Linked DNA regions of Homo sapiens. The protein of the gene in region 1 interacts with the protein of each later gene in a pairwise test. Each region holds a gene or a part of one and is shown on either strand. Other genes may lie near its edges.

Region 1 (4,060 bases):
CACACCATCTGAGTGCCTGGCCTCTGCTCTCCAGTCCCAAAGCTTCATCTAGCCCACCACCCAGCTTAAATTAAAAGTATATCCCACTGAGAGACTCAAAGTTTCCAAAAGTCTAAAAGGGCCTTTCTTCAGAGAATTTGCACCTTACCATTTTCAGCCAGATACACTTCAGCACTTTTCCCAAACCCCTCTCTAACTCCTTACCTCCTTACTCCCTCTTGTTACTTGTCCTTTAGGTCTTAGAAGTATTTCACCATCTTCCATACATTATTACTGTTCATTAATTGTAAAAGTCTAAGCAGAGGTGGGTGTTTTGTATCCTGGTTTTCCCATTTCTAACAAAATTACTTTCAAAAATCAGATGTTGGATTAATATTGGAGGAATGAATGAGCCGGTAAGCATAGATGCTGGTTCATAAACATTTTATTTCTTCCTACCTTCTTCAGTAAGCTAAGCCAATCCAGGTATGACTTTTATTTTTATATAACAGACTAAAATGGAAAAAGAAAACCAAGAACTGAAAAGTTTACTTTTTCTCACCTATGTTTTGATCTCCAAAATTTTACTGCTAAATCATCTCACATTTTTTAAGGAAATACCTATTCCAATACTGTGTTTCCTTGTTCTGGCTCATTAAATATGAAAGAAGGTTTCCCAATTTGTTTTACAGAACAATAAAACTCCTACTCTTAAATAGCAATACGTGTGTAACCAAAGTCATTAATAAATATAGATTCTGAAGTTATCTAAAACTTCTATTATAAGCAACAACATTTGAAATATAACACCAAAAAAAAAAGAAAGAAAAAGATACAACTCCGAGTTACTATAGACTATTAACACAAAATGATATATGCTGTGTTCCCTCCAGACGCACTCTGGCCATTCACTACTTAGAATGTTGACTGCTCTTCTCTTCCACAAAGAAAACAATCTTCAGACTTGAACATTTGAAATGTAACCTAGGGGAAACAAAAAGATGGAAAAGTAAAACTCGAGTTATCAATATACAATAGGAATGCAAAGATGATATACACTTATTTCTTCCAGCCCCACCATGGCCCTCCACTATTAGAATGTTGACAGACCTTTTCGACCAAAAAGTGAAGAACAAGCCTCAGATTTCACTTAGCATGGGAGAAGCTGCTAGACGTGGTTCTGGAACGTGCATTTGCCATGGCAGCAGTATGAGCCCTGGCTGCAGCTCTGGCTTGGGTTCTCTGTTCCTCATCCCTCAAAGCCTCTTCATAGCAGGATGGGAAGGCACTAGGGACGGTATCATGTATCTTGGCTACAAACTCCAGGACTTTCATCTTGCTAGTTTCAGCGTGAGCTCTTGGACCCCACAGGAATTCATAGCGTGGAGGATCACTGTTGGGCACTTGCTGGTACTCCAGGTACTTTAGCTGCACCAAATCTTTGGTCATGACCTTCCTGGGATCCCCATAGAGGAAGTGCTTCCTATCGGCATATACACCCATCATATTCATAATTTCCCAGACTGCCTCTTCTGGGGCACGGTTGCCATTCAGAAAGATCACACCCAGTGCAATCATCAGGAGGCCAGTCTTGGGAATTTTTTCTTCATCACTGGTTGTTTCATCATAGGTGAGGTCTAATTTGCTGAAAAAGGCATAGTAGTGCCTGATGGGATCCACTTCCTTCAAATCAACACCAAGTGCCAGCTCCATGTGCTCAGAGGCTCTCTTGAGGATCTCATTGAAGTGACACTTATCCTTCCTGATAACAAACTTTATCATATCTCCCTTTGTAATTGGCTCTTTCGTTTCATACTTCTGAAGCAAGAAATGCACCAGCGACACTACTTTCTTGTTTAAAGGATCTTCTTTCCAGCCCTCAGCTTCCCTTGAGGAACCTAGACTTTTCTCATCTTGGCTGCTGGCACCTTCATTTGAACTGCATGAAACAGGTGCAATAGCATTGGTGGTGGATGGGGCTCCCTGAAGCGCTTCAGGGATGCTAGGTGTCTCAGCAGCAGGCAAATTCTGGGGTCTGTCACCAAAGAGAAGATAGGCAGGGGAGGGTGACTCTCCTTCTGCCACAGTGGCCTGCGTAGCTCCCAGATCCTGATTCTCACAACGAGCCTGGTGGCGTTTCTCACGGGCACGGAGCTTACTCTTCTGACCTCGAGGCATAATTACTCTTGTCAGGGACTACAGACAATAGTGCAGGCAGTTGAATTGATGAAGAGGGCACCCTAGAAGACGGAGGATGAGATAGTGTTCACAGCCTTGGTAGGGAGATTCTACCTTGGTCTAAGAATGGCCACCTCTCCTGGTTCTCTTGAGGGTATTGCTTTAGGAACCCATAAGGCAGGAGCGGGGTGGGACTGTTCTGTGGGGGGTTGTCACATCAGTTCTAACTCAGGATATTAATTTTACTCCTGACTACATCAGTTCTAACTTAGGATATTAATTTTACTTTAGTCTTTTGAGTCCTCCGTCTGTTGACTTGAGGCTGCCTCGCTTTAGACCATGGCTTCCCATCCCACAGATTCCCAACAGGAAGTAAGGGTGTTAGGCCTAACAGCTGCGCTTTGGGACACAGAGAGTTGAAAGTGGGAGCAGGACAGAGCAGAGAAGGATGGGTCTCTGTGAGGCAGCCTCTGTTCTGGGAAGAGTGTGTCTTGAAGGTCATAACAAATGATACTCACTTTGACACCTGCCGGATCCTGAGATTTATTTCTCTGGCCGCATGTTTCAGACCAAGGTTTCGCCCGTAACAGCTTGATGATGTGGAAGATAGGTCAAGAGAAACATGTCCGGCCACGCCCACTTTGCTCTCCCAGCTTAACGGCAAATGGTTCTGCGTTCGGGGGAGGGGCAGTTCTTAAAGAAATACATATATTTCTTTCATTGACTTTGCAGGCACTGGGACTTCTCTCTTTGCTAAGCTGAATCAGTCAGCCTCAGAAAAAGGATCATTTCCCTGAGTCCAGAGTAGGAAGTAAGGTGGAACCTGAGCCCAGCAGCCACGCCTGGGGACTCCCAAGATTGACAGTAGGGGCGGGGCTCTGTGGGGGTCCCTCTTCTTGGGTAGGTAATGCCCTCAGTCCTCACTCAGTGTCTTATCTTGACTTTTTGTAGGTGCTGGGCCACTTCTCTGCTGACTTGAGGCCATCAAATAAGGCACTAAATCTGTAAATAAAGATAATTGACATCTGTACAATATTATGTTCACCATATATAAACATATTGTATTGCTGTACTTAGGCATCCACCTAAGTCTATCAACACATTTTTATATTTGCTTTGATAGAGTGTGTATGTTTTTGTGAATGTTCTTTTTAGGTATATTTTGAATGTTGCTGCTCTTTTGAATGGTATATTTTTCATTCCATTTTTTTTTATTTTTAAAGCCCTCTCAAATTTATTGAAATAGATTTTCAGGATGGTACATTAGGAGAAAAATGAGGATGACAGAAACATCAAAGGATCTTTCATTCAGGCACTAAAAGTAATCCAGAAAAGAACTTCTCAGAGAAAATCTTAAGTAGCTAGGATCTTTCCTTATTTGGAACCATTACTTTCAATTTAATGCTTTGTATATTATGTTTGTTTTGTTTCTACTACACTGGCTGAGTCAGCTTTGAATTTCTGAAAAGCTTTACTTATGCCCCTCGCGTAAGATCCTAATCCAGTTCACAGTGAATTTCATGACTTAAAGTCTTGAGGTAGCACAAATGTTTTTACAAGATTCCTTGAGGCTTCTTTTTCTTTAACCTTTATTTTAAGTACAGGAGTATATGTGTAGGTTTGTTATATAGGTAAACTCGTGTCATGGGGGTTTGTTGTACAGATTATTTTATCAGCCTTGTATTAAGTCTAGCACCTATTAGTTATTTTTCCTGACCCTCTCCTTCCTCCCACCCTCCACCTTCTAAAAGGCCCCAGTATCCATTGTTCCGCTATATGTGTCCATGTGTTCCCATCATTTAGCTCCCACTTATAAGTGAGAACATGTGGTATTTGGTTTTCTGTTTTTATTTTAGTTTGCTAAGAATAATGGCCTCCAGTTCCATCCATGTTCTTGAAAAGG
Region 2 (3,500 bases), on another chromosome or scaffold:
ATTATTTTTGATTTTTGAGATATTATCCCTTCTAGTTTTTCTCCTACCTTAATGATTGCTCTTTCAATTTCCTTTGCTGGCCTCTCCTATTTATCAGATCTTTAAATGTTTAAGTGCCACAGAGTCAAAAATTTTGCTTCTCCATTGAAACTCCCTCCAAACTTGACCCTATTCAGTCTTCTGGATTTAAATAATATAAAATACTATTGACTCCCAACTGTTTATATCCAGCATTGACCTCTCTCTGAGTTTCAAAGTTGTGTACCATTCACGTGTCTATGACATTTTACTAGGATATCTAGCAGGTGTCTCAAATTAAACATGTTTAAAAAAGAATACCCAACTTTCTGCCCTTACCTCCTCCCAAGCCCCATAACCTGCTTCTTATCTGATTTGCTTCTCAATAAATGATACCACTGCCTATTAAGTTGCTTAGGCCAAAACTTAATCATAATTCTTAGTTTCTTTCTAAATAGAACTTTCCTAAAATTCTATTTAGGCTTTTTCAACTATGGTTCTGAGAAAGAACTCAGCCCTGCTGATCTAAGACTGGATTAACTTCCCTCCTATGCATCTAGAATAGAATAGCACATCCTTAAGAGAACTAAGAAAGATGGGAACCTCAGTCAAGAAAGGCTGCTAGACTGTGAACAAGCCCCTCTATCCATTATTGTAACTCCAGAAAATGCCATCATATTTCACACAAGATAATGTAATAGGCTGTTACTGGTCTCACAATTCCTGTCCTCAACCCTTTTCAGACCCTTCTCCACACAACAAGCAAAGTCATCTTTGTAAAGTGTAAATCAGATTATAAACACCCCTTATTTTTATTCTCTAGAGGCTTCCTCCTTACATCATAATAAAACTCGAACTCCTTTTTGAGGTTTTGCAAGACTCTCCCTGATCTAAATTCTGCCTACCTCTCTCTGACTTCGTCTCCTGCTAGTCTCCTCTCTCTGCTTTCTTTGCCATACTGGTCTTCCTTCAATCCTTCAAATACGCAAAATAAATCCTGTGTCAGTGACTTTGCAGTTTCTGTTCTGTTTACCCAGAACACTGCTTGCCCTAGATCTATAAATAGCTGCCACCTTCCTAAACTTCAGGTCTCAGGTCAAGTGCTGCCTCCTCACAGAGACTTTCTCTGACTACCCCAATAGAACATGTCTCATCTGCTCCTCCCATCCCACTCCTCGGTTGTTTCCTTCACAGCACCTTTTACCCACTGAAATGATCTTTACTTACTTGTCTACACTTTTTAATGTCTGATTCCCACTACTAGAATACAAGATCTATGATGTTAAGAATTTTGTCTTGTTTATTGCCAAATACAGAGTAAGCAATCAAGAAATGTTAGTTCTATTATATAGTAAAAATATACGGAATCAATTTTGGATGAAGAAAAAAGTCACATGTAATTTGTAGTCTTAACTCACTGGAAGAGTGGTATTTAAATATTATTCTTTTGAAAAAACCAGTCATCTAGTTTCCCAAATAACGTGTGGAGAAATGACACTGGGAACATATTACTTACAGTTTCGTATGTAACAATTGGCAACTGATGACTTTGCCAGGAGTTCCATTCCCAAATCCTGCAATCTGCCAGAGTTTTCAGTTCCACATGCAGCCAGAGCTGCCTGGTCAGCAGAAAAAAGGCTTGTCTGCATGTCTCCAGAAGCAGCACTGCTGCTTTTTATTTCTGAAAGTGTATTCTTTACATCAGTTTTCATACATCGAACTTCGGCCATTTGAGTTTTGAGTCTTTTTAGCATCTTTAAATCAGAGGGCACTCGCCACATTGCCTGTTGCTTCCTTTGGTCTTTATCTTTTCGAGAATATGATGCTTCAGAGAAATTGACAAGTCATGTTAACATAAACGTTAATATTAATGAAATCATTTGTACCATGAATATATGCAAATTTGATGTGTAAAATAAGCTAGCGTGCTTTACGTGGTATCAACAATAAAACATGCACTAAATTCCATTAATGAAAATAAAGATAAAGAATCCTACCTTATTCACACCTTCAGAGTTAGAATCTGAGTCACATCATACTCAAGTTCGAATTACACATTTAATTCTAAAAGTTTAAAAGCTGCCCTACTGCCTTGTGCTTTCTTCTTTAAACTTCTCCACTTTTCTGAAACTTTCTACAGAGCTTTTATTATGTTTATAATTGAAAAAAAAGACAAAGAAAAATCTAGAAACCAAATACTTTGTCAAATCTGCCATATATAACATTATATTAAAAATACATATTTCTGGCCAGGTGCAGTGGCTTATGCCTGTAATCCCAGCACTTCAGGAGGCTGAGGTGAGAGAATCGCTTGAGGCCAGAAGTTCAAGATCAGCCAGGGGAGCATAGTGACACCCTATCTGTACAAAAAAAAATTTTTTTATTAGAACTTCCATTTCTGATAATTTTCTCAGAACTGTCAGCTTTCTGAAATACGGTTTGAATCTAACCACTTCTAAAATAAAACAATAGCTCTCCATGCCTAGTATGAATAAATTCCTCCGGCTAGCATGCAAGTCCTTTCATAGAATGGACCCAACATGACTCTAGTTCTACTTACCACTATATGTACCTTAAAATCTGGTTCAACTAGATTACCTGATACCTTTTACAGTACTCCTTTACATGGTTAAGAACATGAAGTTAATCTGACAAATGTTCACTAAATATGTGTTAAATAAATACACAGAAAAAAATAAACATCAAAGCCCAAGCAGGCCACGTGCAGTGGCTCACGCCTATAATCCCAGCACACTTTGGGAGGCCGAGGCAGGTGGATCACTTGAGCTCAGGAGTTTTGAGACAAACCTGGCCAACATGGTGAAACCTGTCTCTACAAAAAATTGTAGAGCACTCCAGCCTGGGCAACAGAGTGAGACTCTGTCTCAAAAACAAACAAACAATCAATCAAACAAAAAATGACCCAAGCAAGCCTTTTCAATAAAAAGAAAGTCATATATTTCTGCACACTAGCTTTTATTAACATCCCTTCACTGAAAGGTATTTTCATTTGGCTTCCATGAGTATTTTTTCTCCTTTCTAAAAGCTCTTTATCTGGCTCATCTTCCTGACACTCAGTAAAAACAGATATTCATCAGGATTATGTTCCTGGCTCTCTTCTTTTAAAATATTCTTAAAACTCCTTTGCAATCTCACACCCTTGGTTTTAATTATCCAGTATCACCTCCAGAAAAATAACTGTCTGTATTCCAGTTCATTTTTTTTTTTCATGGAGTTTCACTCGTTGCCCAGGCTGGAGTGCAATGGCACGATCTCGGCTCACTGCAACCTCCGACTCCCAGGTTTAAGCCATTCTCCTGCCTCAGCTTCCCAGGTAGCTGGGATTACAGGCACCTGCCACAATGGCCGGCTAATTTTTTGTATTTTTAGTAGAGACAGGGTTTCACCATGTTGGCTAGGCTGGTCTCGAACTCCTGACCTCAGGTGATCCACCCGCCTCAGCCTCCCCAAGTGTTGAGATT
Region 3 (3,500 bases), on another chromosome or scaffold:
CAGGCTTTGCTTCTGTCCTACAACATTAGCTTTTCCAAATTACTCCAAGCTCGCCTTGTTCATCCTCCAGGACTCCTTTTCTCTCCAGAGACTGAGGTTTAGAAAGTGAGAACCAGACAAGGAAGAAACTTCTTTAGAACCAGAGGTTCATTTGTATGGAGCTGTAGATGTGGAAGCCTCCAGATTATAGACTGAGCTGCCAGGTGGCTGGGGAGTGTGTGTGCAACTGGAACACTCCTCTGACGCATCGTGGGTTCCGTTCCCCGACTCACTTCTCATTGCCTGGAAAGCATAGGAAAATTTCAGTTCCTGCCCTTGATAGGCAGTCCAGCAAAACTTACATATGACTTTGCTGCCTGAAATTCTTTCTGGAACAGGGCAAGGTATAAATAAATAAATAACATATCACTTTTTGGAATTTAAAGTGCTGTGTCCTTTGATAGCAACAGCAAAGCAAGAGAGGTTGACTGGACAGCCACTCCACACCTCGATGGCCGTTCCCAGTTCCCCTCTGTTGACTGCAGACAGGGTCAGTACCTCCTTCATCAGGAAAATGGAGACATCCAGTGTGAGCTCCTCAGAGCCCCTCCACCACTGCACAGTGACATTTACCTCTTAGTCTCCTGTGTCACTGGATGAGGCGTCCTTGCTGCTGGGCTTACCCTTCCACCTCTGCCCTTGTTCCCTTTCCTTCCTGTCTCCTGTCAGACTGCCTCATCGTTTATTGCCTTTCCTGTTTTCTGTGATTACTCCTTTTTATAGGCTCCTCTCTCTCAGCCTGTAAATATATGTGAGCCCCTCACATCCTAACATGAGTCTCCCTTGATCCTATGTCTTCTAAGTGTTTGCTGATCTTCCTGAGGTTTCTGTTCGGCACTGTTGCTGCTTTCTCTGTGCAACTCTACTCCTTTGGCCTCCATGGTGCCATTACTTTCCAGGTTCTTCTCCTCCCTCCCTCACTACCCTTTCCTCTCTCTCTCTCCCTCTCTCCCTCTCTCTCTCTCCCCTTTGTGGGTTTCTTAGTCTTCTACCCCACTCTAATTGTAGGTGATTCCTAGGGATCTACTCTTTTTTTTTTTTGAGAGTCTCGCTCTTTCGCCCAGGCTGGAGTGCAGTGGCACTATATCGGCTCAGTGCAAGCTCCACCTCCCGGGTTCACGCCATTCTCCTGCCTCAGCCTCCCGAGTAGCTGGGACTGCAGGCGCCTGCCACCACGCCCGGCTAATTTTTTGTATTTTTAGTAGAGACCAGGTTTCAACGTGTTAGCCAGGATTTCAACGTGTTAGCCAGGATGGTCTCGATCTTCTGACCTCATGATCTGCCCACCTCGGCCTCCCAAAGTGCTGGGATTACAGGCATGAGCCACTGTGCCCGGCTGGGATCTACTCTTATCCTGCAGTTCTTTTCGTTCTCTCTACTTACAGGGCTTCAAACATTACCTGAATGCTGATGACTCCCAAACCTACCTCTGGTTTATTCCTTTCTTCTGAGCTTCAGATTCTCCAGCTTCAGCTACCTGAGGGACATCTCTGCCTATATGTCTCTTAGCTGCCTCAAGTTTAATGTGTTCAAATCCAAACCCATCATCTTCCTTAGCCCTCTTTGTCTGCTGTTTTCTCTTGAGTAATCAGTAGCACCATTATCTACTCAGTAATCTTAGCTGGAAACCTGGGAGTCATCTTTATGACTGCTGCCTCTCTTTCACTCACCACATCGAATTAGTCTATATCTTTGCCTTTTTTAATTTTTCTACACATTTCCTGACTCTCCCTTTGTCTCCATCAAGACTTTAAGTCCTTTAAGATCTTGTAGTCCAGCCAGACACAGAACATGCTCTAGTTAGTGCTCAGTAAGCGTTTAATGAATAGGAGGGAAGGATCACCTAATTCTTCTCTTTTTTAAAAAGGTGGGCCGGGCGCGGTGGTTCACGCCTGTAATCCCAGCACTTTGGGAGGCCGAGCCTGGCGGGTCACCAGGTCAGGAGATCGAGACCATCCTGGCTAACACGGTGAAACCCTGTCTCTACTAAAAATACAAAAAATTAGCTGGGCGTGGTGGCAGGCACCTGTAGTCCTAGCTACTCCGGAGGCTGAGGCAGGAAAATGGCATGAACCCGGGAGGCGGAGCTTGCAGTGCGCCGAGATAGCACCACTGCACTCCGTCCTGGGTGAAAGAGCGAGATTCCGTCTCAAAAAAAAAAAAAAGGTGGGCCGGGCACAGTGGCTCACGCCTGTAATCCTGTAATCCCAGCACTTTGGGAGGCTGAGGCGGGTGGATCACAAGGTCAGGAGTTCGAGATCAGCCTGACCAATATGGAGAAACCCTGTGTCTACTAAAAATACAAAATTAGCTGGGCATGGTGGTGCATGCCTGTAATCCCAGCTACTCAGGAGGCTGAGGCAGGAGGATCTCTTGAACCCAGGAGGCAGAAGTTGCGGTGATCTGAGATCACGCCATTGCACTCCAGTCTGGGCAAAAAGAGCAAAACTCCATCTCAAAAAAAAAAAAAAAAAAAAAGGTGGATGTCAGCTGGGCCCAGTGGCTCACACTTGTAGTCCCAGCACTTTAGGCGGCTGAGGTGGGTGAATCATAGGAGGTCAGGAGTTCAAGACCAGCCTGGCCAATGTGGTGAAACCCCATCTCTACTAAAATACAAATATTAGCCAGATGTGGTGGCAGGCGCCTGTAATCCCAGCTACTCGGGAGGCTGAGGCAGGAAAATCACTTCAACCCAGGAGCGGAGGTTGCAGTAAGCCAAGATCGTGCCATTGTACTCCAGCCTGGGTGACAGAGTGAGACTTCATCTCAAAAAAAAAAAAAAAAGTGGATGTCGCCGGGTGTGGTGGCTCACACCTGTAATCCCAGCATTTTGAGAGGATGAGGCAGACAGATCACTTGAGGTCAGGAGTTTGAGATCAGGCTGGCCAACATGGTGAAACCCCGTGTCTACTAAAAATACAAAAATTAGCCGGGCGTGGTGGCACACACCTGTAGTCCCAGCTACTTGGGAGGCTGAGGTGGAAGAATCACTTGAACCCGGAAGGCAGAGGTTGCAGTGAGGTGACATCGAACCACTGCACTCTAGCCTGGGTGACAGAGTGAGACTCCAGCTCAAAAAAAAAAAAAAAAAAAAAGATGGATGTCCATGAGTGGTTAGAATTAGAAGAAATCTTAAATAAGGACATGATGTTGCTGTGGCATGGGGAGGCCACGTCAGTCTAGGGTTGGAAGCTAACTAACTTTCCTCCTACCTAGAGAGGTATGGAGAGAGGCTAGATGCTAGATGGGGCATTCAGCCAGTGGGGTCCACATGGTTGGCTTTTTTTTTTTTTGATAAGAGAACTGAATGACAGGATATTTCTGAAACTTTTGTGACATTTCTTGAAGTGATTAGGAACTTGACAGGGTATTTCTCAACTGGAGATGCTGTATTAATTAAAACATTGACTTCAGGACTTCAGGTAATGGAAAGTAATTCAGATCTGCTTTGCTTTTTTTTT

Evidence for each region.
Region 2: the proteins of MAGEB18 (region 1) and TRIM37 interact in a two-hybrid assay, tested with the Homo sapiens proteins (one large-scale study listed by BioGRID and IntAct).
Region 3: the proteins of MAGEB18 (region 1) and GLE1 interact in binary tests that used the Homo sapiens proteins (3 or more experiments, as listed by UniProt).

The regions. Positions count from the first base shown.
Region 1 is NC_000023.11:26,137,083-26,141,142, reverse strand, and holds MAGEB18 (melanoma-associated antigen B18), read right to left. Parts: upstream 2,801-4,060; 5' UTR 2,676-2,800; intron 2,220-2,675; 5' UTR 2,158-2,219; coding exon 1,126-2,157; 3' UTR 1,090-1,125; intron 964-1,089; 3' UTR 407-963; downstream 1-406. UniProt on the Homo sapiens protein: May enhance ubiquitin ligase activity of RING-type zinc finger-containing E3 ubiquitin-protein ligases. Proposed to act through recruitment and/or stabilization of the Ubl-conjugating enzyme (E2) at the E3:substrate complex.
Region 2 is NC_000017.11:59,026,881-59,030,380, forward strand, and holds part of TRIM37 (E3 ubiquitin-protein ligase TRIM37), read right to left. Parts: intron 1,844-3,500; coding exon 1,535-1,843; intron 1-1,534. UniProt on the Homo sapiens protein: E3 ubiquitin-protein ligase required to prevent centriole reduplication. Probably acts by ubiquitinating positive regulators of centriole reduplication.
Region 3 is NC_000009.12:128,528,719-128,532,218, forward strand, and holds part of GLE1 (mRNA export factor GLE1), read left to right. Parts: exon of another isoform or gene 1-282; intron 283-3,500. UniProt on the Homo sapiens protein: Required for the export of mRNAs containing poly(A) tails from the nucleus into the cytoplasm. May be involved in the terminal step of the mRNA transport through the nuclear pore complex (NPC).